2 separate regions of the Homo sapiens genome follow, and region 1 is reported to be linked to region 2. The links are microRNA targets in miRTarBase. Many come from high-throughput screens and were not tested one by one. Region 2 holds a microRNA gene; the other region holds the end of a gene's coding sequence.
Evidence for each region. Region 2 holds the annotated microRNA hsa-miR-934 (UGUCUACUACUGGAGACACUGG, at 930-951, shown strand). A microRNA usually pairs through its seed, bases 2 to 8, with sites in the 3' UTR of a target mRNA and lowers its output. Matches are read on the target gene's strand: a 7mer-m8 pairs with bases 2 to 8, a 7mer-A1 pairs with bases 2 to 7 and ends in A, and an 8mer does both.

Region 1 (3,422 bases), not on the chromosome of region 2:
GCCATCTCTTTCTCTTGGGTTCTTCCTAAGGTTAAACAGTCAGTATGTCCCATCTCTCCTTGTAGGGCTTATCACTCTTTGGGATTTGGTTTGTTTGCCTTGTAATTTCAGTTCTTTGATATGTTCAAGAAAAAAAGCTTTAATTTTATAGATGACCCAGCCTTTTCTCCTTGTTAAAATGGGAATGACAGTCTCTTGAGGTTTTCCACATCTTCTTGAGAAGCAGAGCTCTGACTACCTCTACTAAAGTTAGTTGATTTTCTGTTACTCTCTTGTCAGTATCATTTCCATCACTGCACATATTAAAATTAGTAATTTTTTTACTTTGTCTCCTCCATTAGACTTTAATCCTATAAAAACATATACTACATCGCTTCATTGTTGTAATCTATTATACCTAGCACCATAATTGTACATATAGTACTCAAAACTAATACATACGACAGGTATTCATATTTTCAAAAACCAAAAACATTAACCCAACATACAGAAAATACTGTTAAAAAACATCCATGGAAATATTGATGAACAGAGGGAGAGGAGAGGCAAGAGCCCAAATGCAAACTGGGAAATTGTATTCTGAACCATCAGTTAGGTTTTAATTTATAACCTGCCTGGAGACTGTCTACAGTGTTGACTGAGTTCAAAACATAAAGCACAAATAAGAAAAGTATACCCCAAACCACACTTCTTTAATTAAGCTCTAAGAAAAACTCAAATAAATGAAATAGTAAAACTTTGATCAGTAATTCCTTATTGTTTATTCTCCTCTTACAAAAAGACACTTGGGACAAATAAATACAAAATGGCATATATCATATTTAGCAATGGGCAAATACACATTTTCTTGGTATTCTCCACAAGAATAAACTAATAAAATTTTCAGAGGCATACTCTTCTACCCATCTCTTACCCTCTAAAAAAAAAAAAGGCAATTATTTTAATTCCCTGTAATTTTTAACAATGAATTCTCAAAATAAGTAATCTAGGACTATTCAGGGACCAAGACATCTGAATCAACAAGTTAAAAAAAAAATGTCTGTATACACACACACACACACACACACACACACACACACACGATGTTGCCCAGAAGCTCCAATTAATGAAGAGTCTTAAAAGTTTTTCATTTCATATAGTTTGCATGAATAGAGCCTGTTCTATTCTAATCTCAATGGCAAATAATATAAAACAGAAAGCTGAACACAACATGTGTGTGTGTGTGTGTGTGTGTGTCTACTTTTCTGTCCTAAGAGAAAACATTAAATACAGGTATATTTAATATACAGTGAACATACCATGTGTTTTCTTAAAGCCAACAAAATCCTGATTTCCTATAGCTTGGAGGTGATACAGAAGGCAGAAGACAAATATCAAATTTAGCTAATAAAATATACCCTGCCTATTGGCTCCAGCAATACACTATAGAGTTTGAGCAATGACGGATACCCAAGTGTATATGTTTTGTTAAAATTTATCTTCAGGCTAATACCTGAAGAGGTTGGCTAATACTTTAAATCAAATATTCTTACTTAATGATTTATCCATCAAATGGAAATATGTACAACATATTTCAAATCAGAAAAGGGGTGAATTTTCCCCCTGCCCTTCAAAAAAATATTTTTAAAAATCCACTTGAAATAATTTCTTATTTGATGCTTTTTAATCACTTTCCACTTTATGACAACCATTTTTCTAGAAAGGCAGACAAGAATATAAAATGACTAAGGGGTCACTATGAAAACAATCAAATGGATTTGAAATTTACTTCTGTGTATTTTCTGTACTCCCTAAGTCTTGTGCTAATTAATTACATTTTACTTCATCCCCTGTAATGTTACAAATATGCACCTTAAAATAGAAAAACTTGCTTTTATATTTTAAAACCCCCTCCTCCTTACCTATCTTCCCAAATATTTTAAGCAGAAAATTAATCTTGTTGCTTTAAGGATTGATGTAATATTTGCGAAAAACAACCCCTAATAAACCCTTTAGACTTTTTCGAACCAGCACCAAATTTAAGGGGTTTATTCACTCTGAGGTTGCATGGAAGATGGAAATTAAAAATATCAGTATAAGTAGAACCACATTTAAGAAAAAGCACCTAAAGATGGAGGACAGATAATTCTAACATCCTACACACACACAGTGGTAAACCATATTCATGTTTCTATGTATGTAATAAGTTCTCCAAAAATCTAGGTATTTTTGGTTCTGGTACTAAGTCTAAATTTTTTTTTTTTAAATTTCAAAGGCAATTTAAAACTGGGGGGAAATACATTTTTAAAATTTTGGGGTTGAAGTTCACTACACTATGAGACTAATTTCGTATGTGGCAAGTTGCAACTCTCCAAAGGTGTGAATAAACATCAGAAAGCCCAAAGTGAAGAGCCAGTACATCAACATGCATGATCAGGAATCCTATGAAAGTCACAAGGCATTGGGATTTGGTGATTTACATTAACCTCCTCCTGGTAGAAGATAGTGTTTCATGATGAATGCAGACTGTGCTCACTGCTCATGAGACACACACATCACTACTGCTGAGGTCCCACTTTGTGATAATTTAGAAATCATCCAAATTTAACTCCAGAAAATATAAATCTGGAATATGAATGTGAAGACAGACAGTACAAACAGCAGTTGAGTGAAACCTGCCTGTAACGATCTTTATTTTTTTTTCCTTTAAGGCTACAGAAAATCTGTACATAAACAAGGCAATTAATTCTCATAATAAAAATAACCCCTTACAAATAGCCAAGGTGTCCAGTCAGATTCCATAGTGAGTATATGTTGTATCACATTTTATTCCACTTGTGTACTTTTTTGTGAGTCTGCTGGGTTAGGATCAATTCTTTCTGGAAATATTAGCTTCTCACAAACTGCTTCCTTTATTGGTAAATACTGGGATATTTCATTAGGTTCCGTGAAGAGGGAAGGTGGAACATGCTAGGAAATACATAAATCATATTAGCATATTCAGTTACTGTACTGAAATTTTTTACAAATGTTTTGGTTCAAGCATTCATAAAGCATGGAAATTTTAAAATCAGGTGCAATATATGCATATGTGCTCCTAAAAATAATAGGTATTTCTTGATACGGAATCATTCAACTTTGTTACTGAATGATTTCATCAAAGATCACAGGGTTATATAATCTATAATGTTCCCACAAATGTCCTAAGAATTTAATACATCTTAATCCAACCCTATGTATCTCCTGCTTTTGTAACTTGAAAACACTAGTCTTCGGTTAGAGCACAGCATGTAGTCTACAATAGAATCTAAGTAGTAACTTTTCTGTTCCAAGTATACTCTATACCCAGACAGAAGTACATACTAAGCGTGAAAAAATAAAATCAAGTTTATAGGAAGGTACCAATTTTTAAGCAACCCATTATAGAATCCTAAGTTCTAAGG
Region 2 (3,422 bases):
AGAAATTACTAGAAGCCATCTTTACACTGAACTAAGCATATAGTAAACAAAAGGCCTGTTCAGCATAGCCTACCTAAGTCAGGCACTGTGTTCTATTCTAATGTGGAAAACAAATTTCCCATTAAAATACCACTCTGTCATTTCCAGAATTTGATTAGGAATGTACTTAAGGAGTAAATCATAGAAGTGTCATGTTTGGGAAACCTGTGAAATTTCCTACCCCTCTACTCTTTTTCAAAAGTCCTTTCCTACTGGATTCACAGGGAAAATTAGGCCAACTGTGCTTGTATATATGCCTGTGCATACACACAGCAAAGCCCTGTTTCGACAGTAGGTTAGAACACAGATGGCTGAAATCATCACCTTCCAAACTTAGCAACTCTTTACAGTTCAAGTCCAATTCAGCAAATATTTAGTGAGCATCTACTGTAAGCAAGGCACATCATGGTGAAACTAATGCAGGCATTGTCCTATTCCTGAAATCTCAAGACACATTCACAAACAAATGGTTATCACCAAGGTCTTCATGCTCTACTCATGTTGACATGAGTTGTATTAATTGGTGACTGGAAGTCCAGGATCTGTTGAGGAAGTCAGTGACCCTTAATCAGGAACACTGCCTTGGAAGGTGGTGGACCTTTAAAACAGAAGCTTCTCAGTTTTTGTAGCATCTGATATGAGAGAATATGCTAGATATTCATAAACTTAGGGCCAGGCAATGTGGGGCCCCTGGAATGCTACTGGGCACTCTCTAACCTAGTCCTAGAAATTTCAGTTCCAATAATGTTTTCTTCTTCTTTTCTAGATAAGAAACTATATGTATCTCGTGGATCTGCCAGTACCAGCCTTCCAAATGAAAGTAGGTATCTGGGCCAGCCTTTGATGGTGTGTGTCTGTATCCTGAGAACGAACTTGAGAAATAAGGCTTCTGTCTACTACTGGAGACACTGGTAGTATAAAACCCAGAGTCTCCAGTAATGGACGGGAGCCTTATTTCTATCACTCAGTGTTTTCATAGATAGAATTTGTTTCATTTTAGCCTCAAAAAAGAGTATATGCACTTCCTATCTTGTAAAATTTTATTTTGCTATAGAAGAAACTCTCCTTAGTTTCTTTTTTCTTTTCTTTCTTTCTTTTTTTTTTAACCTGAGTTTGACTTAACTGAAGTAGCCAAGGTGACTCAGAAAAATTAAGAAATTCATGAGGATGAGGATTAGCTTGCTATGTCCCAGATGTTCAGTTTTCAGCCTAGTATTCTTTTATTTATTTCTTTTTTTTTAACCTGAGCTGGACTTAACTGAAATAGCCAAGGTGACCCAGAAAAATTAAGAAATTCATGAGGATGAGGATTAGCTTGCTGTGTCCCAGATGTTCAGTTTTCAGCCTAGTACATAGGGCCACCCCAGGACTCTGCAGTCAGTGAAAATGTCAACTGAGGCATGAGGCCAGGACTCTGAGCTCCACACTCAATTTGAAAGTGGTGTCAGTGGGAACTTACAAAAGAGGACAATCTGGGTGGAATGACAGGAGGATCTTCATGACCTGGGTTCAGGGTCAATTGCCAGCTTTATTATTTACTTGCTTCAGGAACCTGGTCACATTTCTTAACCACTTCATGCCCCAGTTGCTTCATTTTTGTCAAATAAGCATAAAATAGTGCCCACCTCATTGGGTGAGGTGTGAGGAGTAAATGAAATAATGTATACCAATGCTTAGAATAATGGCTGGCACATTACTCTAAGCGTTGGCATACATTAAACCATCAAGAATTCTTTTTGGAGGGCATCCTGTGTTCCCCAAGCTGTGCTCTGTGTGCTGTGTTTAAGAGAGGACTCAAGCTGGGTGTGGTGCCTCACACATGTAATCCCAGCACTTTGTGAGGCCAAGGCGGGAGGAACACTTGAGCCCAGGAGTTAGAGACTAGCCTGGGCAACATAGCAAGACCCTCATCTCCATAAAAAATAAAAATAGAGAGGATCCAAAGGAAGAGCCACTACCACAGCCCCTGATCTCAGGCATTTGACAGTCTGGTGTGAAGTAGGGGTGAGGGCAATCTATAGACCCCACTAGAATGTCAACCCCATGAGGACTGAGACTTTGAGAGGTATACCACTGTATCCCTAGCACCTTGCACAGTGGTATACAAATTTGTTGAATAAATGAATGAGTGAATGCTGGAAACAATAAAAGAGCATTTAACAAGGAAACAGTAAGAAAATGTAGTAATGTAGTAAAAATTATTCCAATGTAGTAAAAATTATTCTGTTTGATGCCTTCGTGTGAGAGACAAACAAAACAAAAACCAACCCTGGTGATTAATTGGCCATGCCTCCATGAGGAGATTCATTTAGAGCTGGTTCAAAAGCCTTAGCATAGCCAAGGCAGGCATCACATAAGTCCCTGCCCAAGGAAATGAGTTCTGCTGGCCTTCTAACTTATGAAAGGCAAGGATTGTGGTGTTTCCTGAGTACTTGTTAATAGTTTCTACATTTGTTTATTGTGAGTCTCAGAATTACTGATAACTTGATGCTTAAAATTGTTCATAGACTAAAACTAACAGCAACAACAACATGTATTGGGTGTTGACTATGAGCCACATACCACATACTCCATCTTGCTTAGTCCCCACCATGACCTTGTGAGGTGTATGTGAATATGTCCTAGGTGCTTTACTCAACCGATATTCAGTAAATAGTGATTGAATGAATGAATATCCCCATTTTATAGATGAAGAAACTGGATCTCAAAAAGGTGAAAGGACTTGCCTTAAATCACACAGCAGCAAGTGGCAGATGCAGTATTATCTCCTTGCTCTCACAGTGTCATAAAATTATCAGAAACAATTCCAAGTTAAATCAAGTATACAACAGTGAAAATTAGTCACTGGTGAGATTATTTTACCACACATGAGTTCACTGTCTATCTGGGACCAGGGCACTATCCTAAAATAAAGGAAGGGGGATGCAGAAGGCTCAGAAAGCAAGCAAAAGAGCAAAGAAAAATATACCTTTGGGAAAGAAGGTGGGGGATGTTCTTTCCTTGCAGAGAGTAGTTGAGGAAAGGTGGCTATGCCAACAGGCCCAAGTCTGCCTTTCTAACACTGTGGCCCTGGGCAGAGGGAGGTAACATGGAGCTGAGAGGAAGAGAAGGGACTTCCTAGGGCTCCAAGTAAAAGGACAATGGAACCCAGCAAAGCCCATGCTCTTAAGCATGACACCAGTCTCCCAATCTTGCCTGATGGTACGAACCACCTGGGGAGCTTGTTCACTGCCCAGATCCTGCTCCCCCACTTCCTGGGGGAGTAGATTTGGCATGAGACTCAGTTGCCTCTTCATGTTTTATTCTTTTTTTTTTTTTTTTTTTTTGAGATGAAGTTTTGCTCTTGTTGCCCAGGCTGGAGTGCAATGGCGCAATCTCGGCTC

Region 1: the mRNA of TIPRL is a reported target of hsa-miR-934. Seed matches in the 3' UTR shown: 8mer at 1,234-1,241.

What each region holds. Positions count from the first base shown.
Region 1 is chr1:168,199,430-168,202,851 of GRCh38, reverse strand. TIPRL (TOR signaling pathway regulator) reads right to left here. Exons shown (of 7, transcript NM_152902.5): 7 at 743-2,949. The coding sequence ends at 2,806. Among named protein-coding and RNA genes, the nearest start is that of TIPRL, 22 kb to the right of the region's middle.
Region 2 is chrX:136,549,963-136,553,384 of GRCh38, forward strand. It overlaps MIR934 (microRNA 934), which reads left to right and starts at 916; the gene lies at 916-998. It overlaps VGLL1 (vestigial like family member 1), which reads left to right. Exons shown (of 5, transcript NM_016267.4): 4 at 806-859.